Linked DNA regions of Homo sapiens. The protein of the gene in region 5 interacts with the protein of the main gene of each other region in a pairwise test. Each region holds a gene or a part of one and is shown on either strand. Other genes may lie near its edges.

Region 1 (4,442 bases), on a different chromosome or scaffold from region 5:
TGGCAGGCTCTTCTCCCCGCTGGTCCCGCTCAGGAGTGTCTCTGCCCTGATGCTGGGTGTGGCAAGAGTTAACCCTGTAGGCAGGAGGGGTGCCCCAGTGGGTCCACCTCCAGCAAGGACTGAGAGCGAGCAGAGCCAGGACTGGGGTCTATGGTGAGGCCAGGGAAGAAGACCCAGCTGTACCCCAGGGAGAGGGCCTGAGCACACTGAGCTGACCCTGGGGAGACCCTGACAAGGCTTAGACAGGCCCCAGGGCTGCCGTGATCTCCCAGTGAGCCCCAGAAGGGGTCAGAGGGGGAGGTTTGGAGGCTCTAGCAAGTGAGTGGGAGCCCCTTCTGACAGGTGCTAAGGGATGTGGGGAGCCGGGGGAAGGAAGGAGGGTGGGGTGCAAGGGAGGAAGCGTGGAGAGGGAGGGGGAGGTGGGACAGACCAGGAGGGCTCTTACTCCTCTGGGCTTTTCCCCCACTTTCCAGACACTCGATGGATCCACCCACATTCACTTTCAACTTTAACAATGAACCTTGGGTCAGAGGACGGCATGAGACTTACCTGTGTTATGAGGTGGAGCGCATGCACAATGACACCTGGGTCCTGCTGAACCAGCGCAGGGGCTTTCTATGCAACCAGGTGACCAACCCAGCCACCCGCATCCAGGCAGGGCCCTCCCAACCCAGGGACACCCATGGGCAGAAGGTTCTGGGTGGTACCTGTGGTGTCCTGCAGAGTGTCTGTCACCTGTGCTTCCTGTAGCTGCTGCTGCTTGGCCCTGGGGTTGGGGGAGACTTCGGCTTCAGTGACTCTCCAGGATTGGTGGCTTCCAGCCCCACACGCCTAACCAGCCACATGTCTCAGGGGCTAACACCACTAGTCCAGAGTCACCCCCAGGTCCAGGTCTCAGCCGTCCCCACTCCTGCTGTGCTCTGAGAGGGTCAGGGCAGAGGAAAAGGGTCTGCACCAGGGCCAAGTGGGATCAAAGAAAAAGCGCTTCCGGCCGGGCACGGTGGCTCATGCCTGTAATCCCAGCACTTTGGGAGGCCGAGGCTGGCGATCACAAGGTCAGGAGATCAAGACCATCCTGGCTAACACGGTGAAACCCCATCTCTATTAAAAATACAAAAAATTAGCCAGGTGTGGTGGCAGGCGCCTGTAGTCCCAGCTATTCAGGAGACTGAGGCAGGAGAATGGCATGAACCTGGGAGGCAGAGCTTGCAGTGAGCCAAGATCGTGCCACTGCACTCCACCTGGGCAACAGAGCGAGACTCCGTCTCAAGAAAAAAAAAAAAAGTGCTTCCTGAGGACCCTCCCAGGATCCCCTCACAGACACAGCTCCCACCAGGAATGATTCAGAACTGTGGGATTTGAGGATCAGGGCCTACCTGACCTCACAAGGCCAGGATTCCCCAGTGCCTGCTCCTGGGCTTCATCCTGCGGGAAAAGAGACTGAGGCAGGAGAGGCCGACCAGGGATTCTGTCCTGACCAGGATGGAGCCCACAGCAAGGCCAGAACAGGCCCCAAGTCAGGATGCAGGGATGGCCAGCATTTGAAGAAGAGCTGGGCCAGGCCAGGCCGAGGGGCCCTGAGCCCGAGGGACGTTCTTCCCTCGCCCTTGCCCAGCACAGCCCCTGGCTGGAGAGGCCAAATTCTGCTTGGCTCTGGTGCTGGAAACGGGGTTCCTCTGGGCTCTATGAGCTTAATATGGGCCCTGCTGGGCCCACACACACTGCTTGGAAGCTACTTTCAAAGGCACCGGTCCCCATCACTGTCTAACCAGTGGGATGGGACTCCCCCAGGAATGACCCACAGCCCCTTCTCAGCACAAATCGTGTCATCCATTCTACCCCGAGTCCTCTCTGCACTGGACTCCTGGGCTTGACTAGTTCCCAGTCGAAATTTGGACAAAACACCATCATTCCTTGGGCTCAACAAGGACAATCACCCCATGACTGGGGCCCTTCCCAATGTGGGGTTAGTCCTGCTGGGGGCCCCTCATCCCCACTTCTCCCTGCAAAGGGAGCCCTCTGGCCTCAGTCTATGTCACTCGTGGGCTTAATACAGGGTAAAGCACAATGTGGAAGCTTCTAGAATTATAGGTCACAGAAGGGGTGGGGCAAGGGGAATTGACGGGTAGACAGGTCAGCCTCCCCATGAGGGAAGCACACGCAGCTCAGTGGCATCTGTCCTCCCTCCCCCAGCTCTACAGCCCCTCCCTGCAGGCCTGGGGCGGAGTGAGGGTCCTGAAGGCACTGACCTCATGTGCAGAATGAGAGGATGCTCCAAATACTCAGTATCAGAGAAATCTCATCGTAATGGAAAATTAAATTATTTAATAGATTATTGTAAAAATCCGGTCAGGTGTGGTGGCTCATGCCTGTAGTCTCAGCACTTTGGGAGGCTGAGGCGGGCAGATCACTTGAGGTCAGGAGTTCAAGACAAGCCTGGCCAATATGGTGAAACCCCGTCTCTACTGAAAATACAAAGATTAGCCAGGCGTGGTGGTGCATGCCTGCAGTCCCAGTTACTGGGGAGGCTGAGACACCAGAATCGCTTGAACCCGGGAGGTGGAGGTTGCAGTGAGCCAAGATGGCGCCACTGCACTCCAGCCTGAGTGACAGAACCAGACTCTGTCTCAAAGAAAAGAAAGGAAAAGAAAAGAAAAGTCATCTTGATAACTGGGGTTTGGTGCCCCCGTCTAATTTTGTGCTGGAGGCTGCCCCGCACCCACCCTGATCCAGGCTGTCCCTCCTGACTCACTAAAAATTCCCTCGGCCGGGCGCTGTGGCTCATGCCTGTAATCCCAGCACTTTGGGAGGCTGAGGAGGGCAGATCACCTGAGGTTGGGAGTTTGAGACCAGCCTGAACCACATGGAGAAACCCCTTTTCTACTAGAAATACAAAATTAGCCTGGTGTGGTGGTGCATGCCTGTAATCCTAGCTACTTGTACACTCCAGCCTGGGCAACAAGAGTGAAACTCTGTCTCAAAAAAAAAAAAGATTACCTCATGGCTTGCTTTCTTTTCTAGGCTCCACATAAACACGGTTTCCTTGAAGGCCGCCATGCAGAGCTGTGCTTCCTGGACGTGATTCCCTTTTGGAAGCTGGACCTGGACCAGGACTACAGGGTTACCTGCTTCACCTCCTGGAGCCCCTGCTTCAGCTGTGCCCAGGAAATGGCTAAATTCATTTCAAAAAACAAACACGTGAGCCTGTGCATCTTCACTGCCCGCATCTATGATGATCAAGGAAGATGTCAGGAGGGGCTGCGCACCCTGGCCGAGGCTGGGGCCAAAATTTCAATAATGACATACAGTGGTGAGAATGGAAGCCTGGAGTAGGATGGGGTCAGCCAGGGCAGGAGAGGGCCCCGGGAAGTTACTAGAAAGTGGGGAGGGTCGGCATCCCTGTGGGAAAGGCCTTGATCCTCTGCCTGCAGAGGCGATGGCTGCACTCTGGACCTGACTTTGGGGTCGACGGGAAGAGAGAGGCCAGGCCAGGAGATGTGGACCTGGGGAGGGCGGGGAGGGTGGCTGGAAGTGGAAGCAGAACTTGGGGCTTCCAGAAAAAATGAGAACTGGGCTGGCCCAGATTCCAATAGGAAAGAAGTGCCTGATGAAGGAGCTAAGTCCCTAGGGGAGGGAGAGGGAAAGGAGGGACTGAAACCAGGATGTGGGAAGTCTGTCTTGAGAGTCATGGGCCTTTGGTGCCACCACGATCCCACAGCGGGAGTGTGACTTATCTCCCCTGTCCCTTTTCAGAATTTAAGCACTGCTGGGACACCTTTGTGGACCACCAGGGATGTCCCTTCCAGCCCTGGGATGGACTAGATGAGCACAGCCAAGACCTGAGTGGGAGGCTGCGGGCCATTCTCCAGGTGAGGGCTTCTTCCCTCTGCCCAGTGCCCCATCGGCCTCCCCCTCCTCCCCTCTCCCCTGCGCCGTGCCTTCCCCTCTGCTCAGAGCCTCCTCTGGGTTCCCTGCTCCCCCAGGGCACCTGTCTCTGTCCCTCCCTTTCCTTCTCACAGCCTCCCTTTCTCTCCCACCTCCCACATCCCTCCCTCCTCTCCGATCATTGTCACTGTCCCCAGGCCTCCACCATATGCCTACTTTCCACTCGCTCACCCTTTGCTCCATTCAACCTCCCTGCTCTTCCAGAATCAGGAAAACTGAAGGATGGGCCTCAGTCTCTAAGGAAGGCAGAGACCTGGGTTGAGCCTCAGAATAAAAGATCTTCTTCCAAGAAATGCAAACAGGCTGTTCACCACCATCTCCAGCTGATCACAGACACCAGCAAAGCAATGCACTCCTGACCAAGTAGATTCTTTTAAAAATTAGAGTGCATTACTTTGAATCAAAAATTTATTTATATTTCAAGAATAAAGTACTAAGATTGTGCTCAATACACAGAAAAGTTTCAAACCTACTAATCCAGCGACAATTTGAATCGG
Region 2 (4,442 bases), on a different chromosome or scaffold from region 5:
AAAAAGTAAGTGAAGTAAGTGGAGCTAGTCAGCTCAGCATAAGAAAGTTTCAGTACAGAGCTATGTACACAGATCAGCCCTGTTCTGCCAAATGTGAGCTCCTAGTAACGACCAGGTCCCGGGGAGACACATGTGAAAGAGGACCCTGCTGTATCCTCAGAAAACAATGGCACCATTTCCTCCATTCTCAATCTGCTTTCTTCATGGCTGGAAAAGAAAGTTTTCCAGTTAAAAATGATTATGTGCAAAGATAGGAAACATTCCATCAACATTAACATATTTAATAATTTATGATTAATTCAAATGCATAAATTTCACATATTACCAGCTCACATGTTTCTTCAACAGTTCATCAGATAACTATCTTGAAAATTTCTGCTTGAAAATTTGTTCCCTTGACCACCCTTTTGCCCTCTCTTAATCAGTCTCCTCTCTCTCTCTCATCTTTTCTTCCTTCTGCTATCAAACTTTTCCTACTGGATCTCAGCCACCGATCCCAGTTCCCTTTTACTTCCTGGTAGTCTGGCTGTTGATCCCTTTGCTCTGAGGCACTCTAGATTTAAGGTCTTGCCAGTGATGTGACCTTCTCTATGTATTTCAAGTACCTATCAAGAGGTAGGTGGTAGAATGGAAGGACCACAAGCTTAGGTGTCAGAGTGTCCTGGGTTTGAACCCTTGTTCAATTTGTTCTATGGGAAGCTCCTCCTCCTCTCTGAGCCTTCATTCCCTTATCTGCACAATGAGGGTAATAATCTACTTCGCAGCGTGTTGTGAGGAATAAATAAGCTGGAAATTTATTGAGCACTTATAATTCACTATGCACTATTCTAAGAACAGGGCTTATCTCATTTAATCCTCACAACAAATCTATGAGATAAGTACAATCACTTCTCTTGGGTTACCAACGAAAAAACTGAGTTCCAGGGTGGTGAAGAAACTAAAAAGATCACACAACTACAAGAGCAGAGTCAGGATTTGAACCCAGATAGACTGAGCTTAACTACTGGCTGTGCTGCCTCTAATATAAAGCACAAAATAAGAGCTTTTACAAGGTTACACTGGCCTGGTGTGGTGGCTTATACCTGTAATCCGAACACTTTGGGAGGCCAAGGTGGGAGGATAGCTTGAAGCCAGGAGTTTGAGATCATTCTGGGCAACATAGCAAGACCCTGCCTCTACAAAGAAAATGTTTTAATTACCTAGGCATGGTGATGCACACCAGTAGTCCTAGCTACTTGGGAAGCTGAGGTAGGAGGATCACTTGAGCCGAGGAGTTTGAGGTTGCAGTGAGCTGCGATCGCACCACTGCACTGTGAGCCAGGCCTCATTCCCCGATCAGTACCCCCCAAAAATGTTACATTGTAGAGTGAAAAGAATGTAGATGCTAGAGGCTAACAGATCTGGGTTTGAATATTGGCTGTGCCACTGACTAGCTGAGAGATTTATGGAAAATCACTTAATCTCTCCTACTCTGCTTCCACGTCTGTAAAAATTTCATTGCTCCACTTTTCTTCAGGCCTATAATATAGGTTAATATAATCATTTATATAAAATGTTCATCATAGTGTCTGGCTCACAGTAAACATTTGATATATGGCATTTGTTAAAATTAGGATAGGAAGTGACATCAGAAGCACAATAAATATTTGTATAAGACAAAGCATTTATTGTCTCCAGCAAGAACCAAAGTAAAAATTCTTACCATAATTTTCCAGGTCTCAGATTCATGTCCAAACTACTGCTTCTGCTTCAACCTTCCTACCAATGACTTCCTAGTAAAACCCCTTAGCTTTTTTTTTTCTTTTCTTTTTTGAGACGGAGTTTCACTCTGTCACTCAGGCTGGAGTGCAGTGGCACAATCTCGGCTCTCTGCGACCTCCACCTCCCGGATTCAAGCGATTCTCCTGCTTCAGCCTCCCAAGTAGCTGGGATTACAGATGTGCACCACCACACCCAGCTAATTTTGTATTTTTAGTAGAGACCAGATTTCACCATGTTGGCCAGGTTTGTCTCAAACTCCTGACCTCAGGTGATCCACCCACCTTGGCCTCCCAAAGTGCTGGGATTATAGGCGTGAGCCACAGTGCCCGGCTGGCCCCTTCACTTTAGAAGGGAGGGTGTCCGCCCCCTGGGCTCTGCTCAATCCTACCAGTGGGTGTTTATAAAGTAGGTTCTGATATAGGTATGGGAACCCTGCATCCCAAATTTTCTAGGGCAATTCTGATTTTCTTCTCCCTTATCAGACTGTATGGCAAACAAAGTGTCCCAAGTTGAGAGTCAGAAAACAGTATCACCAAAAATATAGGCTATCACTTGTTTTCTTGCTCCATGCATCTTTGAAAATAAAATGCTGTCCTTTGTGCCCAGATTATACTAAAAAAAATAACAAAATAAACCTAGGACCTATGCCTCTTGCCATGCCATTAGTCTACAATTTTTTTTTTTTTTTAAGACAAACTCTTGCTCTATCACCCAGGCTGGAGTACAGTGGCATGATCTCGGCTCACTGCAACCTTCTCCTCCTGGGTTCAAGTGATTCTCCTGCCTCAGCCTCTAGAGTAGCTGGGATTACAGGCATGCACCACCATGCCCGGCTAATTTTTTGTATTTTTAGTAGAGACGGGATTTCACCATGCTGGCCAGGCTTGTCTTGAACTCCTGACCTCGTGATCCCCCTGCCTCAGCCTCCCAAAGTGCTAGGATTACAGGTGGGAGCCACGGCACCCAGCCTAGTCTGCTCTTTTTCTCCTAAAATAAGGTGGTGGATTTATGAATACAAAGAGTCTAAGAATGGTGGACTAGGTCTAGCAATGCTGTTCCTCAGCAGCTTTTTGGACAGAAGTCTTTGTAGACCTGTGGCTCTCTCACTTGATGTAGACCCATTTGAATGAATCTCCTTTTGCTTTCTCTTTCTTTAATATTTTTCAGGTACGAGCAGGTGATAATAAATATATGCACTTGAAAGTATTCAAAAGTCTTCCCGGACAAAATGAGGACTTGGTACTTACTGGATACCAGGTTGACAAAAACAAGGATGACGAGCTGACGGGCTTTTAGCAGCATGTACCCAAAGTGTTCTGATTCCTTCAACTGGCTACTGAGTCATGATCCTTGCTGATAAATATAACCATCAATAAAGAAGCATTCTTTTCCAAAGAAATTATTTCTTCAATTATTTCTCATTTATTGTATTAAGCAGAAATTACCTTTTCTTTCTCAAAATCAGTGTTATTGCTTTAGAGTATAAACTCCATATAAATTGATGGCAATTGGAAATCTTATAAAAACTAGTCAAGCCTAATGCAACTGGCTAAAGGATAGTACCACCCTCACCCCCACCATAGGCAGGCTGGATCGTGGACTATCAATTCACCAGCCTCCTTGTTCCCTGTGGCTGCTGATAACCCAACATTCCATCTCTACCCTCATACTTCAAAATTAAATCAAGTATTTTACAAAGTGTGTGTGTGTGTGTGTGTGTGTATATATATACTTTTTTTTTTTTTTTTTTTTTGAGACAGAGTCTCGTTCTGTCACCCAGGCTAGAGTGCAATGGTGTGATCTCGGCTCACTGCAACCTCCACCTCCCAGGTTTAAGCGATTCTCCCATCTCAGCCTCCCAAGTAGCTGGGATTACAGGCACCTACCACTGCGCCTAGCTAATTTTTGTATTTTTAGTAGAGACAGGGTTTTGCCATGTTGGCCAGGCTGGTTTCGAACTCCTGACCCTAGGTGATCTGCTCGCCTTGGCTTCCCAAAGTGCTGGGATTACAGGTGTGAGCCACCTTGCCCAGTCTATATTTTTATTCTGAAACAAACTTAAACATAGAGAAAAGTTGCAAAAAAAAAAAACCCACTTTTTTTCCTGGACATTTGAGACTAAGTTACTTACCATGATGCCCCATCATCAACAAATACTTCAGTGTGCATTTCCTACAAACAAGGATATTCTCCTGCAAAACTGAAATACAACCATCAAAATCAGGAAATTGCCAGGTCGCAGTGGCTCACGCCTGTAATCCCAGCACTTTGGTAGGCCAAGGCAGCAGGATTGCTTGAGGACAGGAATTTAAGACAAACCTGGGCAACATAGCGAGACCATGTCTCTACAAAAAGAAATTAGAAATTAGCTGGGCATGGTGGTATGCACCTGTAGTCCTAGCTACTTGGGAGGCTGACGTGGGGGGATGGCTTAAGCCCAGGAATTCGAGGCTACAGTGAGCTATACTCATGCCACTGCACTCCAGCCTGGGTGACAAAGAGAGACCGTGTCTCTAAAAAAAAAAAATTAAAAATAAAATTAAACAATTAAGAAATTAACACTGATACACTGGTAGCATCTAATCCCCAGACACCATTCAAATTACCCCAATTGTCCCAATAATGTCATTTATTACAAAAAGATCCAAGCCAGGTGAGGTGGCAAGCACCTGTAGTCCTAG
Region 3 (4,442 bases), on a different chromosome or scaffold from region 5:
TTTTAAACTTTCTTATATGTATATACAATAGTTGTTTGATGAAACACCATATATACACTTAGATGTATACATTCAGAAATAAATGATCTCACTGTGCCAGGACCCAGTTTTAAATTCATGCTGTATCATTATAGTGATTCTCTGTAGTGTAATGTGTGACTTACTCTTATGTCAACTTCTAAAGGTTTTTAAAAATCTTTAATTTTTTCATTAAAATTATATCTGATGAGAGACAAGTTAATTTCAATTTCAAGATTTTTGTTATATTCTGTTAATATTCGGAGTGTCCTGGACACATGGTAAATGTTCCTTATTCTTGTCTTAAAGTCTAAATCTCAGATACAAATCCAGGCCAGGTGTTAATTGACAGACACCAGATAGTTGGCGTTCTCAGAGAAATTAGGTTTCAAATTATCTTGTACTTTACATTAATTTTAAAAAATTACTGAGAAGGACGCAATTTATTTTTGATGATGTTTCACTATCTCCAAAGAATTAGTTGCAACTCAGGCTGTAATAAATTGACTGGAGAACATCCTACATTTGGAGAGAGAAAAAACTATTGGGTAACACCCAGATCACTAATCTGTTTTTTTTCAGTAGTTTCTAAATCATCTAGTTAAAAATTACTACCTGCTGCAAGTTTAGACCTAAATACCCTTATCCTTTGAAGACTGTTGAGGTTGCTTCAGAATTTTTATAGCTCTTTGCAAAATATTATTAGCATGGAATAACTGGGTGCATCCATAGGCTGTTTAACTAATACAGGGTAGCATTGCATTCTTCTTTAAAGGAAATTGTAACATTTAAATTCATTAATTTAATGGCCCAGTTTATTGTTGATTAAATTATCAGAAGCTAAATTAGTTTTATCTCACAACCAGCTGATTGTTTTATTTCACGATGGGCCTGAAATTCTGTAAATATGCTAATTTCCTGTTATGGTGAACATCCTGCTACTCTGCTTTGCACACACTTCATAGTGCTCTCATTCATTTAGCAAATGTTTTGGCATTTAATATATACCAGTCACTAGGCCAGGCACTCTCTCAGCAAATTTTAGTGTTGGAGGTCTCCTATTAAATAATCTCTGGGATGTGTGGGATTTTTAGATCAGATAATTACATTTTTTAAATTTAACTTTATGCTAGAGAAGAAATATTTACTTCTTTATAGCTTTTTTGTCAAAATACTACTCATGTGTTACTGTCGCCTGTGTCCATATTTATAGAAGGCTACCCAGTTATATCTACCCAAGTATGAACCATTTTGGGAATAATCAAAGCCATGTGATCTATTGGCTCTAATGTAAGGTAAGTAGAATAAATAAATCGCTACCCCAAAGTAACTCATGCTTCTGTTTTTCTCTGCCCTTTAAAGTTCCAGAAGCAAAATGTTCAAAGGTTGAATATTTTACAAGCTTGGAACTGAAAGAATGCTACAGTGTGTCAGACCAGCCATGATTCATCCAGCCCAAGCCACAGAACAGTGTAGAGGGAGAATATGGTTATCCTTGAAAATGATGGCCTCAGAAAGCAAGGTGTTATACCAGCTATGAATTAATAACAGTCTAGACTAGAAGGAATTTTGTTTTTTTTTTTAATCTAAAAGGATTCAGGAGGTAGTAGTTGGTTCAGTAGCACAAAGATGAACATATTTGCATTCTTTTGGTTAAGGTTTGCGATTTCCTGGACCTTTCATTTGTCTCTCAAGAGGGCTAATCATCATGTCTGCTTTTCAGGCAGTATATAGAAAAGGATGAGGGCAAAAAGGCTGACTCGCAACTTCCATATGTGCGCGCGTGCACACACACACACACACGCACACACATGGAAATTATAGATATATATTCCCTATCTATCTATCTATCTATCTATCTATATTTGGCTACTCCTGTCTGCAAAGAAGTCTGGGAAATAAAATTTTTCAGTCAGTCCTGTTGCCCAAAGTTCTTTAGTAAGGAAGAAGAGAATGAGTATTGGGTAAGTAGAAGTTAAATAAAAAATTATTCAGTGACACTTGTTAAGGCATGGTAAGGAAGACTATTCAGGACCATCACCATAGATGTAAGGACTACTGTAACGGGGTCCCACAGCTGGGGAGAGAGATTGGGCCCAACTCCAAAGACAGCATGGGCAAGTGAGAATTTACAGCCAAGGAGCAGAGTCAGTGGATAAGAAATTACTAAGAGGAAACATCAGGGGTAAGGGGAAATCTGGAAAAACCAACCTAACAGGATTCTTGCTGAAGGCAGGCCAAGGTGATCAGATACCACCTGGAGGTTGGCTGGGGGTGAAGAACCTGATCAGATATCAGGGATGGGGGCAATTCTTGCTAAACTGACTTAGCAAGGTTCTTTCCTAAAACTGGGTTTTACAAGGAAGTGCATAGATGGACCTAGCAGAAGAATTAAAGCCTGACTAAAGTTTGGCCAAGCAAAGAGTCTTTGTCACAGGCAACTAGCACTCCCTGCCATGAGTGCACGTGCACATACACTCATGCACTCCTCAAAACATTCCTCTCTCCCTGGAGCACATGTGAATGATTATCTATGAATTGATCTTGAGCTTTCCTGTGTATCCTTTCAGGTTATATTTTTTCTTCTGAGTTTTTAGCCCTAGTTAAATCACACAGTCAATTCTCTAGAAATAGGATTGTGCAGTGGAAAGAGCACTGGACTTGGACTGAGGGGACCTGATAAATCTGGTTCCAGTCCTCTGACATCTAAGCTTCCATTTCTTCCTTCAATTAATGGAAATGAATTACCGTCTCTGCCTGTTTTACAGGCTTCTTATAAGATCACATGAGCACTTTTAATGTCTGTAAAAGTGCATTGTAAACAGTGAAGCATTAAACAGTTAAATGTATGGTATTGTTATGATGCCTGTGTTCAAAATCAAGCTACTCATCTTCCCAAAAGAATGAGCTATTGCTCCTGACTTCTCTTATGGCAAGTCACCAAGTCTAGACACCTCAGTCTTTTGGCTACATCTGACTCCCACCCCACATCTCTGGTTGTAATAGCCTTTGATATTATTCTCTTAGTATTTCTTCATCTTCACCATATCTGACTTACTCACTGCCACCCCTGTTGTTCAGGCCTGTATCATACTTATCGCTTGGCTATTGCAATAGCTCTCTGAGTCAACTTCAGGTCCAACTCTCCCTTCCCACCTCATATCTCTACATATTTCTAGACAGCCCTCATTTTTAGTGGATATAGTATACTATGGGATTGCCTTGTCATAATTTAGTAAATATTTTTCTGCTTTGGGGCATCAGGTTGTTTACATTTTTTGTTGTTATAGTGTGGTAGTAGACATTTGTGTGTGTGTATGTGTATGCTGTACATAGCTTATGATTAATTATTTGTTACAGTAAATTCCTTTAACATGAGTTACTGAGATAATGAACAGTTCTTTCATTTTTCCCAGTTGTTTCCCAAAGGATGATTCCAATTTATATCCCATGAAAAACAGAATACTATTTATCATGAATATATTATAGCTTTTCATAGTGTAGGGATCAAAATATGCCACCCCCAAATATGCCACTTTGGTATATTGATTATTTTGGGTAAAAGGCATTGAAAAGGCTGGGCATGGTGGCTCATGCCTGTAGTCCCAGCACTTTGGGAGACCAAGGTGGGTGGATCACAAGGTCAAGAGATTGAGACCATCCTGGCTAACATGGTGAAACCCCATCTCTACTAAAAATATAAAAATTAGCTGGGCATGGTGGTGTGTGCCTGTAGTCCCAGCTACTCAGGAGGCTAAGGCAGGAGAATGGCGTGAACCCGGGAGGCGGAGCTTGCAGTGAGCCGAGATCCCGCCACTGCACTCCAGCCTGGGCGACAGAGCGAGACTCCGTCTCAAAAAAAAAAAAAAAGAAAGTTGCCCTCCCTGTACCAGGAACAAGGAAGACATTCTTATAACCAAAGATGGGTAATAAAGGCTGAGAGAAATCTGTACAAACAAACCTTGTTAAACCAACCCTTAACTTCCCAGTCACTTTTCCACAATTAACTGCAGTCACCCAACTTCTTTGTCTTGTCATGTTTTCTAAATTTACTCTTTGTCCAACCTACTATATAGATGTTAAGTAAGCTCTAACTGCTTCTTTCGGTCTTCATTTTTCTTGTGAGGGCTCCCATGTACATGTAAAAAGTACTGAATCATGTTTGTATGCTTTTCCCTGTTAACCTGTTTTACGTCAGCCTCAGCTAGAGACTTTAAGAGGGTAGAGGAGAAATTTGACGTTTTGTACAAGTAGTCTACAGCAAAACTTTAAAAACGTATAATAAAAAAATGTGGGTGTTCATTTTCATACACGCGGAATCCAGGCACATCAAGTCCAGGAAGATTTGGTGCACTGCAATATAGGTAATCTTGTACTTAGATTCATAGGCCTGTATGGAAGGATGAAGAACTTGAATGCAAAGT
Region 4 (4,442 bases), on a different chromosome or scaffold from region 5:
TCTCTTAACCTACTTTGCAGTAAGTGATAACACGTCTTACTGGAATATGTCATTTTTATACCAAATCATTCCACTAGGCTGCAGCACAGCAGCAGTATTGGCTCTGATGATGCTGAATCAGCAGCAAAGTGAACCATATTCTTGTTAAGTGTTATTATCAGTAATAGTGTTTCATAGTAAGCAATTAATACAAACCAGTGATGCAAACCCAACTATCTCTAGTGTAGCCCTTGGGTATTAAAAGCATTAGCCATATTATATTCTGATTTCTACTATGCAAATTACATTCTAATACTGCTGTCACATTAGAAGTACTTGTAAAATACTGAAATTATAAATAGAAAAACAGTAAAATTATTTATGCCAATTATAAGTAATTTTATGCAGATATTTGATCTCTAAATTTCAGGTCTATGTTTGAAAACTCTACTTTCAATTAACCCAACATATTATCTGGAATAGGGTTTCAAAAGAGACAACTTACTAACCATATTGTATTTAACAGTCATGTCTGGAATAGATTGAAGTTAAAAACCAAGTAGCAAGAAACATTTCCTCATCCTTCTTAAACGTATACTGAGCAATGGTAAAATTGATTAAGCGTTATACTAAGTACAATATATGGTTCATATTATGATATTTTAAGTAGTAAAAAGAAGCGTTCTCGGAATGACACTATAGATGCATATTTGAAAAACTGAAAGTTAGCACAGACAAATCTATTTATCTTTTCTTGACACTTACACAGACCAATGAGTTCACAAAAATATATTGTTTTGTCATAATTACAATAATCTGAAATCTACAGAAAAAATACAAGTCCTAAATTTAAAAGAAAATCTGCCTTTTTCCTTTCTAGTTGAAACCTTTGGATGATATTCACGGAGCATTCATATAATTTTCTGCATTTACCCCAATAAGTTCAACCTTCAAAATTACAGATTTTTTTTTCATGCATAAGAACAAGAAACAATTTCAAACAATTACCAAGCAATGCCTGTTTTCTAAGATAACAATATCAGCTCTGGGTCGCCTGTGCCCTCTTCTTTTCTGACTGTAGAGCAGTCTCACCTCACTTGACATTTTAGTATGAGCCCTTGAGCCCTTTTATAATCCATTTCTCCTGTCTTTCTTGAATAGAAGGGCACCTAAAGCGTATAAGTCCATTTTGCTTTTCCCATACCTTCTTGTCATCACTCACTTGAACTAACTGTAGACACATATTGTCAAAAAATAAGACCCATCACATTAAATTTGTAGATTTCTGGGAATGTATTATTCTTAATGAAATATTAACAATGATGAGTTGAAATAATCTGACCTGTTTAAAAATTATTAATACAACTTTTGCTTAACTCTCTTATCAATGCAACTTCTCACAAAAAAGTAACTCTTGATTTTTTTAAGAATGAAAGTGCTTTATTTTCATCAGTTTCTTTATATTTTTATCTGATTTCTTTCTGGCAATGTATGTGATGACCTATACACTTTAAGAGACATTGGTTAAACATTATGGAACTAAAGAAAGGGAAAGCTGCAAATTAAATAAGAAGGAATACAATAAAATCACATTTTACATCATTTTAGGAAATAAAATGTAGCATTCCTTCAAAATAATGCCTGCCTGTGGGAGATTGAAATGCCTTCATATAAAAATGCCTTTCAGTAAAGGGTTTCGTATCCTTAGAGAGTTTGTCAGAAACATTATAAGCACTTTACGAAATCACATGATTTCAATTTTCAATCTTTTCTTTTTTTTTTTCAAGAAAGTAGTCTTGATTCAACATACTCTATATGATGTGATGATATAAATTAAAGTTAAATGACATTTCAAGATTCAGGACAGAATTAAACAATAGACTATAAGATATAATACAACATTGCTTCACAACAGGAAATTCAGCAATAAATGACATTTCTAAACACTTCAGAGCCCTGCTGATCCCCATAAATTTAGCAGGTCATCTTCTCCCTCTCTCTCTCTTCTACCCCATCTCTCTTTCTGCAAATCTATATCTATTTCCATCTCCCTCTCTTTTTTCCTTTTCTCTCCTTCCTCATTTAAAACAATTACAAAACTCCTTGATTAAATTTCCCATGTGCTTTAAAAAAAATTGCCCTGTTGTAAAGTTATATTTCTGTAAATCTTGTGATTTTTATGGCCAGTATTCTATCATCTGCCACATTATACATTATATTTATTACACTATCCTTTGCATTATAGCACAAAGTATATGACAGTTCAGTTGGCTAGAATCTATTCTTTTAAATGAAAGCAACTCTTTTATAAATTTTATAACACTGAGGCTTCTAAGGAGTTGAAATTGGCACCAGTGTAGTTTACTGCACTAGCAAGCCAAGTGTGGGAATTCAGCACTTATTATTGAAATGACTCCTCCAAATTATCAGAATGTAGAATGTACAGACATGAATTATTATGCTCAATGCATAAGTTATTGATTAGGAATCTTTACTGATTTACTATAAGAGAGGATATTGAAATGGTTTGACAGAGCCCTGATTTTTAAAATAAACATAAATTACATGTTTCTAGAAAGCAATGTTTCATTAGACATGTTGATTCTTCTTTGCTGCAAGAAACAAGTATTACCAGTTTAGAATCTAAAAATGAAATCTGGTATATAATGAGCAAATGTTGTAAAGAACTACCATTGCTTTTGTTTCCAGTTGGAAATTTGGGAAACAGAAACTGTAACAATAATTGAGGTAGGCATAATATGTAACAAAATGAAATAATCAATAAGCTGAATACATTAAATATTCTACCTTGAGTTATACTGGGAATTCTCTCTATGGTTAATGTAATATGTATAAATACAAGAATTAAAGTTGAAATTCAATATCATTATCTGAATAGATCAAAGGCAGCCCATATATTTGCCCTAGTAATTGGAAAATTTGGAGTAAATTTTGTACATAATATTAATACAAACTTTTAAAATGTAACTGTTTCTCCTTTCGTAAAAATATAGCTCCACTCTCAATAAAATTAAGTCAAATAAACTTCCTTTGAATCCATTGTAAATTCTGGGACTTCTGAATTAAGGAATATTTTCATAATTACTGAAGCGAACTTCAAATTTAAATGAGGCACCATAATGTTTCCAAATAATTTGTCTTCTAAAGGTAAATTTTAAATTAGTAGGCTTATTTTTTGATAGATTTGAAAATATTTAGCTACCTGAGGAATTTTAAGGGTTTTGTGTTTCCATATAAATCTTCAACCTCTAAAGTGTATTTATCAATTATTTTATATAAAATATTTTCCTTAAATAAACCAAAACGTTAAAATTTTTATACCTCTAACTCAAGTGGTTTAAATCTATTGCTAATAAGATCAAAAACATGAATTACATACTTTCAAAACCAACAGTGTGATATTGATTTGCTTTGGTGATGACCTGAAGAAAAGAAACTATTGGAGTAAAATATATGTCAACTTATTACATCAAATAAGAAGCTGATTATCCAATGATTATCTATTAGCTTAGTCAACTATAATATATTTTCTATTCTTTTTTGACTTCTTCTTAAAGCATTATAAGTTGGGGGTTAGTCCTGCTCTGTAGTCTTGAACCATATTTTGTCACCAGAGTGATTTTTCAACATGTAGTCCCTGAAGAGTGAAAAACAGCAACATGCAGATTTATTCTGCCTGCATTTGGCTCCCTAAATTTGAATATTTCTCCATGAGTAGAAACTTACAGAAAATCTTTATTTATCTACCCCCTCAACCAAGACTTTAGTTATTCCTTTGGAGATGAGTTAAAAAATGAATCCTAAGCACAGACATATACTTAGAGGCACTGTCACTTTGTCTCTTTTTCCTTTTTTTGTTTTCAACTACTGAGTGAAGAGTGGAGGTTTTCTACAGAATTTCTACACTAAAGAAGTGACTTCCCCCCCTTCTTGCTGTATGCAATTAAAAATGATAAATGAGAACTCTACTTTTTCTGAGACTTTCTTGTCTTCTAGCTAACTGTCTTTTAAAATATATATCCTAATTTTCAATAGTTAATACTAGATAGTTCTACATAATATTTTAAAAATTAATTAATAAGCCTTCACTAACTTGGGAATAGGCATAAGTACTTGCTATCGATACTTAAAAAAACGGCAGAAATGAAATACTCCTAAAATCTAAGTTGAGAAAAATATTTTCTTTACTAATTTTTTTTCTCCCCTTGGACTTAGATTTGCCATCATATAGAGTATGAAATCTGAAATCCAGCCCAGTGGAGATGAGAAAATAGATGAATGGCAACCATAATCTTGACTTAAGAGCAATGAAATTAATCACTTTGCTTTATAAGTAGAGGCTAGATCAAGCCTGTTTCTAGGTAGGTCGAAGAAGAAAAAAGTGTGGATGAGGGAGAGCCTTGTACTTCATTAAAGCAAAATGAAACTTTGCATAGGAACCG
Region 5 (4,442 bases):
CGTGACCATTCATGAGGTATTAGGTTGGTGCAAAAGTAACTGCGATTTTTACTTTAAGGGCAAAAGCCATGATCACTTTTGCACCAATCTGATATAATAAGAATTTAGCCTCAGGAGGAAGAACAAAGCACCTTATCTTATATTGTAGAAAGTGCTGGAGATGGTGAGTAGCTAATCTAGGCTTGTGATTCAGGGAAAAAATTAAGGTTCAAAATATTAATTTTAATTGATAAGTGAAATATGCTTCATCCATATGTTGGAATCCAAAGTCATCAATTTTTAAAAACAACACTTATTTACATTCCCACCAACAGTGTAAAAGCATTCTTATTTCTCCACAGTCTTGCCAGCATCTATTGTTTCTTGACTTTTTAATAATTGCCATTCTGACTGGCTTGAGATGGTATCTCACTGTGGTTTTGATTTGCATTTCTCTAATGATCAGTGATGTTGAGCTTTTTTTCATATTTGTTGGCTGCAGAAATGTCTTTTGAAAAGTGTCTGTCATATCCTTTGCCCAGTTTTTGATGGGGTTTTTGTTTTGTTTTGTTTTGTTTTGTTTTTTATAAATTTGTTTAAGTTCCTTGTAAATTCTGGAAATTAGTTCAACCATTGTGGAAAACGGTGTGGTGATTCCTTGAGGATCTAGAACCAGAAATACCATTTGATCCAGCCATCCCATTACTGAGTATATACCCAAAGGAATATGAATTATTTTAATATAAAGACACAGGCACACATAGGTTTATTGCAGCACTATTACATAGCAAAGCCATTGAACCAACCCAAAAGCTTATCAATGATAGACTGGATAAAGAAAATTTGGTACATATATACAATGGAATACTAGGCAACCATAACAAGGAATGAGATCATGTCCTTTGCAGGGACATGAGTGAAGCTGGAGGCCATCATCCACAGCAAACTAACACAGGAACAGGAAACCAAACACCGCATGTTCTCACTCATAACTGGGAGTTGAACATTGAGAAGACATGGACACAGGGAGGGGAACATCACACACCAGGACCTGTTGAGGGGTGTGGGGTAAGGGGAGGGAACTTAGAGGACCAGTCAATAAGTGCAGCAAACCATCATGGCACATGTATACCTGTGTAACAAACCTGCACATTCTGCACATGTATCTTGGAACTTAAAGTAAAATTAAAAATAAATAAATTTAAAAAAACACTAATAAGAGACAGCATATACAATGCCACAGAAAAGGAGAAAAATTCACGGGCAAGGATATCATCTCAGATATTTTTCAATGAGGAAAATAAATTAGAGAAAAGAATAATCTCAACCCCTTATATACATGAAACGTTTTATTGTTCACACTAAAGAGAATGTTGAAACACCTAAACTAATCTAGTACTACCTCTGGAAAAAAAATTATCAGCCTATGATCATAGGACATTACAACCATTTTTATGTGAAGTATAACACACCACTAACACAGCAGATGGAGCTCAATAACTGCCAGGCAAGTTGCTGCAGCCATGATATGGTGTAGCCATTGGGAAGTGGGTCGTCCTGGAGCTTGGACTGAAACTTTCTCAAGGGTGTTTTGGCCAAGTGACCATATTGACACTAGGCTGTCACAGGTGGCTTCAAGTTCTAGGAGAGTCTTTCTAATGATATCTTGGGATTTTTGATTCACATCAAATGTGAGCATTTCCTATTATGAGTGAGTGTAAAGACTTCACCATATCCTAAGATTAGAGGATTTTTAGCACATGCGAATTTATCATTGTGTTTGATATGTATCACAGGTGTGCTAGCTCTACTTCTGGGATTCACTCTTTGTTAGATCAATAAATAATGGAATAATAAGATGATAGTGATGATTATGACAATGATTTTAAAAAGATCAGAGATGTTGGTTGTTGTGTATGCGTCTAAATAGAAACAGTAAACATATACTTGTATAGGTAATTCATTCATCATGTCTACTCAAATTGGTCTTGTGTACAGCAGTATCATTGCTGTGGTTGTTTCTAATATTGTCAGGAATTTTGAAGATGGCTGTAGTTGTCGATATTACCAAGTGATGCTATCAGCAAGACAGTAGGACTGTGTTCAAATGCATGCCTTCAAAGTTCTTTTGCTTCCATAATTTCTGAGTCATACTTAGCAAATGGTTGTGAAGTCTTAAGTGAAGAACTGTTGCGTTTTGTCAGTGAATACGTGATTGATTGCAGAAGAGCACTTATTTCAATGGCTGTTGGTAAGAATAGATAAAATTCTACCCAAGATAATTGATATGAATCTTCCTGAAATCTAACATTCCAGAAATGGAAAGTGGAGCCTTTTCATCAAGGGTTCAATGAATCTTCCTTTCTGACTTAGGTTAATGCCACCTTCTTCTCTTTCTCTGTTTATTCCTAGAATGCAGGCTCAACAGTACCAGCAGCAGCGTCGAAAATTTGCAGCTGCCTTCTTGGCATTCATTTTCATACTGGCAGCTGTGGATACTGCTGAAGCAGGGAAGAAAGAGAAACCAGGTAAGCAGTAGGGTTCTGAAGGCAAGATGCTTCATTGATTAATGTCCATCTAGTCTAATTACCTGCTTTTCCTTCCTCTCTTCTACTCTGCCTCTCTCCCTTCCTATTCCTCTATTCCTTCAATCTTCCCTTTTCAAAAATAATTACTTAGAGGAACCTAAGAAATATCCTGTCTTATTTTTCTCCCATTGTAAGTCTTGGATTGCATGACGATGATGATCATTAATATAATGATCAAATTAGCAGCTACTATGTATAGAACATTGACCGGTAATCAGGTGCTTTATTATTTACCTCTCTACCTCAAAAAAAAAAAAATGCACTGCAACTTGTTTTTCTCCTTAATTTCAGATTTACAGAGGAGGAAACAAGCACAGAGAAGATAAAGCACCTTCTCTATGCCACTCCCAAAGTCATAAGTAGGCTGTGGAACTGACAGTCTGTTTAAATCTGTGATGCACCATATTTGTATGATGTCATTCCTTCTACAAGGCAGAGAAAGGAACAACAACTTACACTGAAATGGCTCATTTGACAACTGTTATTTCTTTTTTTTTTTTTTTGAGTTGGAGTCTCGCTCTGTCACCAGGTTGGAGTGCAGTGGTGCGATCTCAACTCACTGTATCCTCTGTCTCCCGGTTCAAGTGATTCTCCTGCCTCAGCTTCCCGAGTAGCTGGGGCTGCAGGCATGCACCACCACGCCCAGCTAATTTTTGTATTTTTAGTAGAGTTGGGGTTTCACCATGTTAGCCAGGATGGTCTCGATCTTTTGACCTTGTGATCTGCCTGCTTCGACCTCCCAAAGTGCTGGGATTACAGGCATGAGCCACTTTGCCCAGCTGACAACTGTTATTTCTAATAGAATATTTTCTTCATTTTTAGGAGAACTATATTTTTGACCATCTCTTCTTTTATAGAAATGTTTGCTTCTAAAAGGAGATGCCACTAAATCACTTAGCACAGTCTCTGGCACATAGTAAGAGGGAGTTCAATTAATATTAGTTTTAGCTCTTTTCTCAGTTTTCTTTCTCTCTTCTCTTGATCATTCATTGGTTCAATAATTTGGTTAATATTCATCATGTTTCTACTATTCATTAGACAATAAGGATACAGATTAAAAAACACAGATCCTGCAATTAAGGTGCTCAGGAATGAACTTGGTTATATCTGGAAGTTAAGGAGTTTTCTGTATGTTGATTAGGTTTTCCTCCTTTCATTCAGAAAAAAAAGTGAAGAAGTCTGACTGTGGAGAATGGCAGTGGAGTGTGTGTGTGCCCACCAGTGGAGACTGTGGGCTGGGCACACGGGAGGGCACTCGGACTGGAGCTGAGTGCAAGCAAACCATGAAGACCCAGAGATGTAAGATCCCCTGCAACTGGAAGAAGCAATTTGGCGGTAAGCCTCATGCTACTGAGTTAATCTCCTACTCTGAGATAATTCTCAAATTTTTCCACCAAATGTCTTTTTAAGGATAAGTACTTTTTATTTTAAATAACTTTATCTTACCAGACACAAAGTGACCAGACTGGTCCCATTTCAGGCCAGGCAATTATTTGTTGTGGAGGCTGTCTTGTGCATTTTAGGGTATTTAGGAGCATCGCTGGCTTCTACTCGCTAGTTTCCGGTAGCATTCCTCACCCGCTCCAGATGTGAAAACTAAAAATGTCTCCAAATATCTATGGCCAAATGTACCCTGTTGGTCAAAATCATCCCTGGTTGGGAACCACTGCCTTTCCAAAGGGACATAAAATATATCCTTGATTCCTCTGAATAATGTTAATTGATCTGTCTTCTCTCTCCTTTCTTCTATTTCTAAGTTCCTTTGATTTTTCCTTTCCCCTTTTCTTATTTATTCTCCTGCTTCTCCATGTTTCTCCCTGTCACTTTCAGACCTTCTCTCCCATTTGATCCCTCCCCAACCTCCACACAGTTTCA
Region 6 (4,442 bases), on a different chromosome or scaffold from region 5:
AGCCTTCCCCTATTGCTTCCTGATGGAGCCAAGCAAAGTCAGTCTAGGGCAGTGGTTCTCAATCAGGGGAGATTATGCCTCTGAGTGGGACATTTTGGAGTCATTTGTGGGGAGGGGTATTACTGGCTTCTGGTGGATAGAGGCCAGTGGTGCTACTAAACATCCTTCAATGTACAGGGCAGCCCCCACAGCAAAGAGTTATCAGGCCCAAAATGTTTTCAGTGTCAAGTTATTAGTGAGAAATCCTGGCTAGGGTTTTTCTTCACTTCCCAAATGTGTCCTCTTTCTCTTCTGACAATGAAGAAGGAAAGAAGAGTATAAGAGGAAATAATGGAAGAACAGCTGTAAGAGATAGAGAACAGAGCTGCTGTGCAGAGAGAGCTGAGAAGGAAGGAGAAGGGTGAGATGTTTTCTGGAAAGTTGAAAAGATTGTTCATCAGCCAGCTTATTTTGAGCACCTACTATGTGCTAGGTCCAGTGTTAGACATGAGATAAGCGATGATTTCAGCATTCCAGGAGTCTCAGTATACTGGCTGCATAAACATTAAGTTCATATCCAGAAATAGATGGGGCATGGAAGGAAGGGGCATGACAGTGTTGCCTGGACCTGGGGAAGGGAAGGATGCATGATTTGGTTTGCTACATTAGATTTGAGGTTGATAAGTAGGTCTGGTACAAGAAATAAGGTGAGGGGGTGGAAAAGAAAGAGGACTTAGGAGCAGAGGGGCAGTGTGAAGGTAAGGAGTGTCAAACAGATTGGCAACTCCTAGAAACTGCATTTGTGTGTGGCTGCAGTGTATGTTTAATAGAGTGCCAGGAGACAAATTGTATTCAGTGGTGGCTGAATCTTAGCAGACCTTTCATACTGTGCTCAGGAGTTTGGGCTTTTCGTGTAGATAGTGCAGAGACATCAGAGTATTTTAAGCAAGGAAACTACATGATCAGATGTCCATTTGAGAAGAATCAAGCTGGCCATGATGTGGAGGCTAAATTGTGAGTAGCGCAGTTGGAGGCGGAGGCAGAAGATTACTGTGATGGTGCAACTGAGATGATGAAGGCCTTGGCTGAGGCAGTTACAGGGGGAAGAAGAGGAAGGAATAGGTAGGATATATATTTGAGAGCTAGAATTGACAAAGCCTAGTGTAGTTGGGTTTGGAGGGTGAGAGTGAGAAAGCCATGGCTGTCTCAATTCCTGGCTTACGTGATGGTTGGATGATGGAATTATTAACTAGGATTTCCTACAAAAAGTAGAAAGGATATTGTTGATCAAGAACCTTACTTCAGTTCACGTCAGCTTTTGCCGGCAAGTAAGTTTTAAAAAAGTGCAGGTTTTGAGAGCTTTTCAGATTTTAGAATTGAGATAAGAAACTGTGGAGCTGTTAAAGGGTTAGAGACATTGCTTGATTTTAGGATGAGGGAAAGGATAAGGGGATTGTAATGAGTAGAGACCCCAGAGAAGATTAGCAGAGCTCATGTGTAGCCTCTTTGCAGGAAGCTGTTTCTGACTACCTTCTTTTCTCCTTGGACAGAACTGAGTACTCCCTCCTCTCCCCACTGGGCGTTGTCCGTATTTCTCCCAGTTAGTGCCTGTAGCACTGCTTTATGTATGTGCCCATCTCCCCATCTTGGGTTAGAATCTCTTAAGGGCAGCTAGAGCATCATATGTGGTATTGTATACCCAGAGTCTGTCACAAGGTTTAGGCATGGATACAGATGTCTGTTAATAAGCAAATGAAAGTAAATTGAATCTATATAGTCTTCTGTTAGCCTTATAACAGCCCTTATATGACAGGTAGGAATCTTTTTCCATATTCTGTTTCTAAATTACCTGAAGATCAAAGGTATGGTGACATGGCTATTGTTACATAGCTAGAGATAGGATGCCAGTTCAGGTGTTCAAGTGAAGTTTAGTGGTATCCAAGGTTTAGGATTTCTGGTGGAAGTAGGTACTTTATTGGTTGTTTATAAAACTGTGAATATCTTTTGAGTAATGTGCAATGAAGTTATATAAACTTTATTAGCTTAAGTCTTTTCAATCAAAATAGCTTCTAAAATATGTGTAAGAGTAACACAAAGTATGCTTTTCTTCACTTATCAGAGTTATCTTCTAGCACTATTGCTAGAGGAGCAGTTTTGAATTATAGTGTAAAAGATTATCTGTATATAATTTTCTTACTTGTAAGTTATGTTTTGTGTTTGTTTTTATGAAATTTTTTAATAATACGTTTTACCAGAATTGTGCACTAGTCTATTTTCTGATGAATTAGTTGTTAGGTTGGCTAATTTTTTGGATATCAAGCTTCTTTGAGTTGTCATTGTTCTGAACCTGGCATAATGTCTTTTTGGAGGCCTCTTTGGAGGAAGCTGCCATCAAGAAGTTTACACCCAGGTTAGGAAGATAAGTTGTGTATTGATAAAAACAGTTCACATATATTGCTTATTTAATATACTCCAGGCTCTGTGCTAAGACAGAATGTGATATGTGTTATATTAATGGTGTAAATATGAAAGTTAAAAGAGGAGAGTGATCATTTCTAATCTGGAGGGTCAAAGAAAGCTCATAGTTAAGGTTACATTTGAGTAGGGTCTCATATGATGGGTAAGGTCTAAGCAGAGAGGAATGGGGTGAGGAGAGTTAGGGATAGAAAGCATAGGTATATTCAGAGAAAGATTAGTGGTCTTACTGGGTTAAGGCACAGCATGCAGAGATTTAGGGGATGTTGGGATCTAAGGCTAGAGACTTAGAGAAGCTGTTGGGGGAGACCTGTTAGATGTAGAGGTGATCCAGCAGGGACAATACTTGTGGGGATGTTACTGCTACTGTAAAAGTGACAGTTATGCTGGGTATTCAAGAGGAAAGGAAGATAAAACAATCAAATATGAGTCAAGTTTATAGCTTTATGTTTTGGTGAATTGTTAAAAAAAAAAAAAGTAGGGAGAATGTGACAGAGTTTTAAGATAAAAATAATGAGTTTAGTTTGGGGCATGCTGATTTTGAGGTTTGACAAGACATCCAACAGTGATCCAAATGCTAAAAGCCAAGCAGACTAGAGAGATTTGAGAGACAACTCAGTCATAGATTTGGATGAGCTTGTCCAGGGGTAATGGGTAGAAAGCGGGAAGAAAGGTGCTAAGCACCAATTATATTTTGTTAATTCATTCCACATTCATTGAATGTCTGTTATGTGACTGCCACTGATTTAAGGACTGAGGATATATCAGTTAACAAAATATACAAACAACCCTGCTCTTTGGAGCTTACATTACAGCATCTGCTTTTGATAAGGAATATAGGTCAGACAGTTCTATATAATATCCTTTAAGTCAAATATGGGCAAGAAATCAAAAGAACCAGTCAAATAAGGTAAACGTAAGTCTAAAGTCTGAGAAAGGCCATTGGATGTGGTGACAACGTGGTAATTAATAACTAATGGTAGAAACAGTTTCAGTAGAGTATTGAGGTGGAAACCAACCTGAGAATTGAGGGGATGAAGAGCAAGCAAAGGAATTGAGGGGTAGACCATCGTTTTCACTCCTTAACTCTTTGGAATATAGACAGTTCTTTCAAGAAGGTGGACAGAAAAAGAGAAAATAGTGCTAAGAGAATTTGTTTCTATAAGAAAAGGTCTCTTGAGCATGCTAGTAGTCAGAGGTTTAGGGTGGTCATCAGGGGAAAAGGCAAGACTGAATATGCTCAAGAGAGGGCAGTGAGCACAAGGATGAGTGAGGACTTCTTGTTCTGGTAAGATGGAATAACTGGAACTAGTTTACTCTCCCATCTAAAAGAAGAAGAACAACAACAGCAACCAGCTCATGAAATATACAAAGCAACAATTTTCAAGCCAGGAAACGCAGTTATCCCTGAGAAATGAGAAACAAATGAGATGTGCTCTGTGATTGTCCCAGCTTAATGCCTTGAGAGTTTCCAGGCTGTGGCACAGTTCCAGAGGGAGCTGAGGTGGAGCTCAGTGAACTCCCTGCATTGAGGAGATGAAGCCGAGAGCAAGGGGAGACCAAGATGGCTAATGTTCATAGAATAGAATACCAGAGAAAAGAGTTGTACAGAGAGAGAACACTAAAGATTTTCAGAGTCTCCCTTGAGTATCCAGCAAAATATTCAATGCATGCATGTGAGGAAACTTCCCAAGGCCAGGGCAAGAACCATCTTAAAGGACTAGAGGGAACAGTGGTTGGTGTTCATACAGGGTTGAAAACTATGCCTGTAATCACCAGATGGACTGAAAAACTTATAACTCACAAGGAACTGGGTAGAGTACTTGGCAAGGTCAGCCGTAAGTGGAGTACCACTCTGGACTCACATGACAGATAATATTAGCAAGTCCCAAAACCTCAGATGGTTGTCTGGTAATGTAATGCATCTCAGCACAAAGCTGTATAGGATTTAAAGAAAAAATATTCATCACTCAACAAGGTAAAATTCA
Region 7 (4,442 bases), on a different chromosome or scaffold from region 5:
TTACCAACGTTGGGCTTCATATCTGAGAAGTCTGGCTACTCAGTTCAGGCCTTAAATTAACCATTAGACCCAACTACCTTTAAAAAGATCCCTCTTAAGCAGATAGATGTTTGAGAACTACTTGGCCTAGTCTGTTAACTCTGAATTAAAATACCTACTCTTCAGTTTCTATTCCTTCTCACTGCCAAAACTTCATTTCATAACTTACTCCAGGAAAGTCTTCTGTGACTTACACATGGCTCTGTTCCTTTCTCTGCTGGGCATATATGTATCTAGGTTGTATAGTATTTGCTTGTTAATATGGTCTGTTAATTTATTTGTTTTGTTACAATTCTTTTTACCAAAACAAAACAGCAAATTTCCCAATGTCAGGGGCCTCGCCTTCTTTTTTCTATCTACTTACTTTTTCTAGTTATAAACAGCTAATTATACAGTTAAATACTCAGTATAGCAACGGTTAACTGAGTGGCAGGAGAAATAACAGGCCAACCATTCTGGTACCTTAAAGGACATTAGGGTGATAGATTCTGCTACAGCATTTCAATGGAATGGGGATGAGATAATACTGTAGTAGTAAGAAGTATTGTCCAATGTTGAGTAAAAGACCTGAAAACTAGGAAGGAACTACATTTCTAATTGGCGGGTAGTTATTAAGCTTTCAATTTGCTGGTAAAGATAGTAAAATTAAGGAAATCGAAGATAAGAGTAGCATGATCATATGAAAATAATGTAGAACTCTTTATCATTGTGTCTTAATCTTTCAGGAAAGAATCTGAACAGATTTTTTAATCATTACTAGTAAATCTATTATCAGTCTTCAACAATTTATGCTATGTCATGAAAAAACAATGTTTTGTGTGTGTGTGTGTGTGTGTGTGTGTGTGTGTGTGTGTGTGTGTGTGTTTTCTTTTTCTTTTTTTTTTTTTTGGAGACAGAGTTTCGCTCTGTCTCCAGGCTGGAGTGCAGTGGCGCAATCTTGGCTCACTGCAATCTCCGCCTTCCAAATTCAAGCGATTCTCCTACCTCAGCCTCCTGAGTAGCTGTGATTACAGGCATGCACCACCATGCCCAGCTAATTTCTTTATTTTTATTAGCAACGAGGTTTTACCAGGTTGGCCAGGCTGGTCTTGAACTTCTGACCTCAAGGAATCTGCCTGCCTCAGTGTCCAAAGTGCTGAAATTACAGGCATGAGCCACCATGCCTGGCCACAAATTTTTAATAAGTAAGGAAAACTCACCAGAGAAGCACAACATAATACAAATGTACTGGATTTAGACTCTAACTTTATATACAAAGTAAATAAAGTACCAGACTTTGAAAGATATTTCTGATAGAATTTTTTTTCTCTCTTTCAGGGTGATCTTGGAAAAAGAAGGGCCTCGTTCCTTGTTTAGAGGACTAGGCCCCAATTTAGTGGGGGTAGCCCCTTCCAGGTAAAAAAAAAAAAAAATTGTTTAAAGCAAGTTATGGCAATCTCTTTTGTTTCAGCACACCTGGATTTAATCATTTATAGATACAGTTAAATTTATAAATGTAGTATTCAATGTTTATGGGAAGTTAAAATACTTAATTTTCTTTTTAAGAATTTCAGATTCTAGCCAGAACAAATTTATATAATAAAGTAATGTTTGGTGGTAGGAAATGATACTGGATATTTTGAAGACTTAACAGTATTTCATTGCTGTTAGAAATTAACAGTAGTAATATGAATACAAAGGCTATGTTTCATAATGTGAGGGAGAAGGTATAGTATTTGCATTAAATTATTGATAGTCTTATACTGGGGGAAAATAATAAAGTATCGCATATTATACCTAGAAGTTTAAGGAACAGTGTATTTATAGATAAGAGTTTTAAATGTTAAAATTCTATAAATGGACCTGAGATTTTTTTGGGGGAGATGTTGTAATCAAAGTTGAAAATAATGAATATATTATATATCTTTATATTGCATAGACTAGGAGATATAAAATTACTAATATTTGCAGGATAAATGGAAATACTCTCGTAGCTAGTGGCAGTGTATTGAGTCTTCTGGGGAGATGCTTATCCTCTCATCTGACCATAGGAGTTAGAAGAATTTGGGGGTGCAGAATTGAAAATCTACACAGGGCTAAGGCTGCAAAATACTCCTGATATTTTGAGATAAGTGTTTGCTAGATTTGTGAGTTTAACTAAACCAGCTCTTGCATCTTGAAAAATTTTGACTCTAAGAAAGGTAAGCATTCTTTTAAACAAAATATTTTCCTTGGGCCAAAAGGCATTTAGGATATCTCGACTTTTTCTGCTTTTCATAGCTGTCCTGCTGTGCGCTCCACCTGAAGTTAGTGTTCCTTTCTCACTTTCCACATAGAAATTAAACTTCAAAGAAACAAGATAGAAAATAGAACCAAAGGACTAGGAAGGATGTCAGGGCTTAGAACAGGGTTGAAGAAAGGGACAAAAAGTCTAAAAACCTGAGAATTTGTGTATCGTTGAAGGGCAGTAAGTGATGTACATGGCCTTTACCATAATAAAAAGGAAGCTATTCAAGGAAGATGCTGAAGAGGTGTCAAGGTGATAAGGATAAAGAACTATGGTGTGACAAACAGGTATCAGTAACCATCTAAAAGGATGGGCATGGCACCATGTGTAGGTGCAAAGGACCACATAGTAAGACCATTGTGAAGTAGTTTTTAAAAAAGTCAAAAGACAGAGAACAAGCAAAGGAACTAATAACTAAAGGAACAACCAAAGGAACTAGCAGTTAGAAAGGGGAAGATCTGGAACTCTTAAAACTAAGTCATTGTTTGGCTTATGGGACAAACCAAACAGATAGAATGGTTGCAGTCCCTATTAAGCCAAAAGGACATGAAAACATAACTTCGTCATTTTTCTCTGACACCATTGCATCTTAGATTGTTAACCTCTTCCATGATAGAACACTGTATAAAGTTCATATTTAGAGTGAAAATGCTTTCTGTATCCAAACCATGTACCAGATCCATGTCTTGTTATTTATTACGTTTCAACTTTTTATGGGTTCTTTTCTCTCTTTAAGAAAATATCCAAAATTGCATCCTAATTATAAAACAAGTTAAAAGAAAAAAAACACCATTAATAGACAGTTCATGTATATTCTTCCAGTAATTTTTCTCGGTTATCATATACATAAAAACATGTATACTTTATTGTGCTTTACATAAACTGAATAATACTAAATGTTTAACCTAATCTAACTGAAGTTTTTCCATGATAATATGTGGGGTGATTTTTTTAAAATTGTATAGCATTCTAGCACTAATAAACATTTCCTTATTATACATTTAGATTATTTTTAGATTTTCATTGTATAAACAATGGTTCAGTAAACATACCTCAACCTTTATCTTTGAATACTTTAGGAAGTATATTTTTTTAGGATGGTCACCTAAAATTAGAATTTCTGGATAAAAGGGCATATGCATATTTAAGACTAGTGAATATTGACCGGGCAGAGTGGCTCACACCTGTAATCCCAGCACTTTGGGAGGCCAAGGCGGGTGGATCACAAGGTCAGGAGATCGAGACCATCCTGGCTAACACAGTGAAACCCCATCTCTACTAAAAATATAAAAAAATTAGCCGGGTGTGGTGGCGGTCGCCTGTAGTCCCAGCTGCTCAGGAGGCTGAGGCAGGAGAATGGCGTGAACCCGGGAGGCGGAGCTTGCAGTGAGCCAATATAGGGCCACTGCACTCCGGCCTGGGCAAAAGAGCGAGGCTCCGTCTCAAAAAAAAAAAAAAAAAAAAAAAAAAAAAAGGCATACTGGATTTTTATCCCTTATCCATAGCCTTACCAATGCTGGCTACTGTCCATCTTTTTTAAATACTTACCAAATGGACTAAGAGGGATTTTTCACTGTTTTAATATGATTTATTTAATTTTTGGTGCAGTCATACTTTCTTGTAATTTGTCATTTGTATATCTCTCCTGTGAATTGCCTATATATATTTCATGGCCATTTTCTCATTAGGATTTCTTTTTTTCTTACCAGTTTCTAGAAATGCATTGTTTATTCCTCTTCCCAACTTGGCATCAAGTGTATCTTATGTTTTTCTTTCTCATAAATTAGAATGTTTCATTTTCAGTTATATTAATTTTCCTTTTTTCTTAAGTACATTAAAAAAGGTACAACAGTGAAATTCTCATTTGTATTTGTCACTCTGTTTCTTATTGGATGAGTAATCAGGATTTTTGGGGAAATAACTGGATATTTCATACAGCAAGCAAATAATTCAAAGCATGGGAAGTTAACATAGAGGTGGTAGTGGGGATGCATAAAATCGTAGTCAGTAAGTTAACAATGAGGGAAATAATTAAATTTCACTCAGTGTTTACAAACATTGGAAAACATTCTGACCTGATGGGTCTGATTTCTTTTGTTGGAATTGTTTTGTCTGTTTAAGGATAATGTGAATTACT

The links.
Region 1: the proteins of PTN (region 5) and APOBEC3G interact in a two-hybrid assay, tested with the Homo sapiens proteins (one large-scale study listed by BioGRID and IntAct).
Region 2: the proteins of PTN (region 5) and CSTA interact in a two-hybrid assay, tested with the Homo sapiens proteins (one large-scale study listed by IntAct).
Region 3: the proteins of PTN (region 5) and HSPBAP1 interact in a two-hybrid assay, tested with the Homo sapiens proteins (one large-scale study listed by BioGRID and IntAct).
Region 4: the proteins of PTN (region 5) and CDH10 interact in a two-hybrid assay, tested with the Homo sapiens proteins (one large-scale study listed by BioGRID and IntAct).
Region 6: the proteins of PTN (region 5) and ARL15 interact in a two-hybrid assay, tested with the Homo sapiens proteins (one large-scale study listed by BioGRID and IntAct).
Region 7: the proteins of PTN (region 5) and SLC25A36 interact in a two-hybrid assay, tested with the Homo sapiens proteins (one large-scale study listed by BioGRID and IntAct).

What each region holds. Positions count from the first base shown.
Region 1 is NC_000022.11:39,083,258-39,087,699, forward strand, and holds part of APOBEC3G (DNA dC->dU-editing enzyme APOBEC-3G), read left to right. Parts: intron 1-473; coding exon 474-627; intron 628-3,021; coding exon 3,022-3,310; intron 3,311-3,753; coding exon 3,754-3,869; intron 3,870-4,149; coding exon 4,150-4,164; 3' UTR 4,165-4,442.
Region 2 is NC_000003.12:122,338,511-122,342,952, forward strand, and holds the end of CSTA (cystatin-A), read left to right. Parts: intron 1-2,928; coding exon 2,929-3,057; 3' UTR 3,058-3,459; downstream 3,460-4,442. UniProt on the Homo sapiens protein: This is an intracellular thiol proteinase inhibitor. Has an important role in desmosome-mediated cell-cell adhesion in the lower levels of the epidermis.
Region 3 is NC_000003.12:122,783,280-122,787,721, reverse strand, and holds part of HSPBAP1 (HSPB1-associated protein 1), read left to right. Parts: exon of another isoform or gene 1-1,313; intron 1,314-4,442. UniProt on the Homo sapiens protein: May play a role in cellular stress response.
Region 4 is NC_000005.10:24,637,854-24,642,295, reverse strand, and holds part of CDH10 (cadherin-10 isoform 1 preproprotein), read left to right. Parts: intron 1-4,442. UniProt on the Homo sapiens protein: Cadherins are calcium-dependent cell adhesion proteins. They preferentially interact with themselves in a homophilic manner in connecting cells; cadherins may thus contribute to the sorting of heterogeneous cell types.
Region 5 is NC_000007.14:137,252,924-137,257,365, reverse strand, and holds part of PTN (pleiotrophin isoform 1 precursor), read left to right. Parts: intron 1-2,391; 5' UTR 2,392-2,392; coding exon 2,393-2,507; intron 2,508-3,728; coding exon 3,729-3,902; intron 3,903-4,442.
Region 6 is NC_000005.10:54,166,889-54,171,330, reverse strand, and holds part of ARL15 (ADP-ribosylation factor-like protein 15), read left to right. Parts: intron 1-4,442.
Region 7 is NC_000003.12:140,958,107-140,962,548, forward strand, and holds part of SLC25A36 (solute carrier family 25 member 36), read left to right. Parts: intron 1-1,356; coding exon 1,357-1,434; intron 1,435-4,442.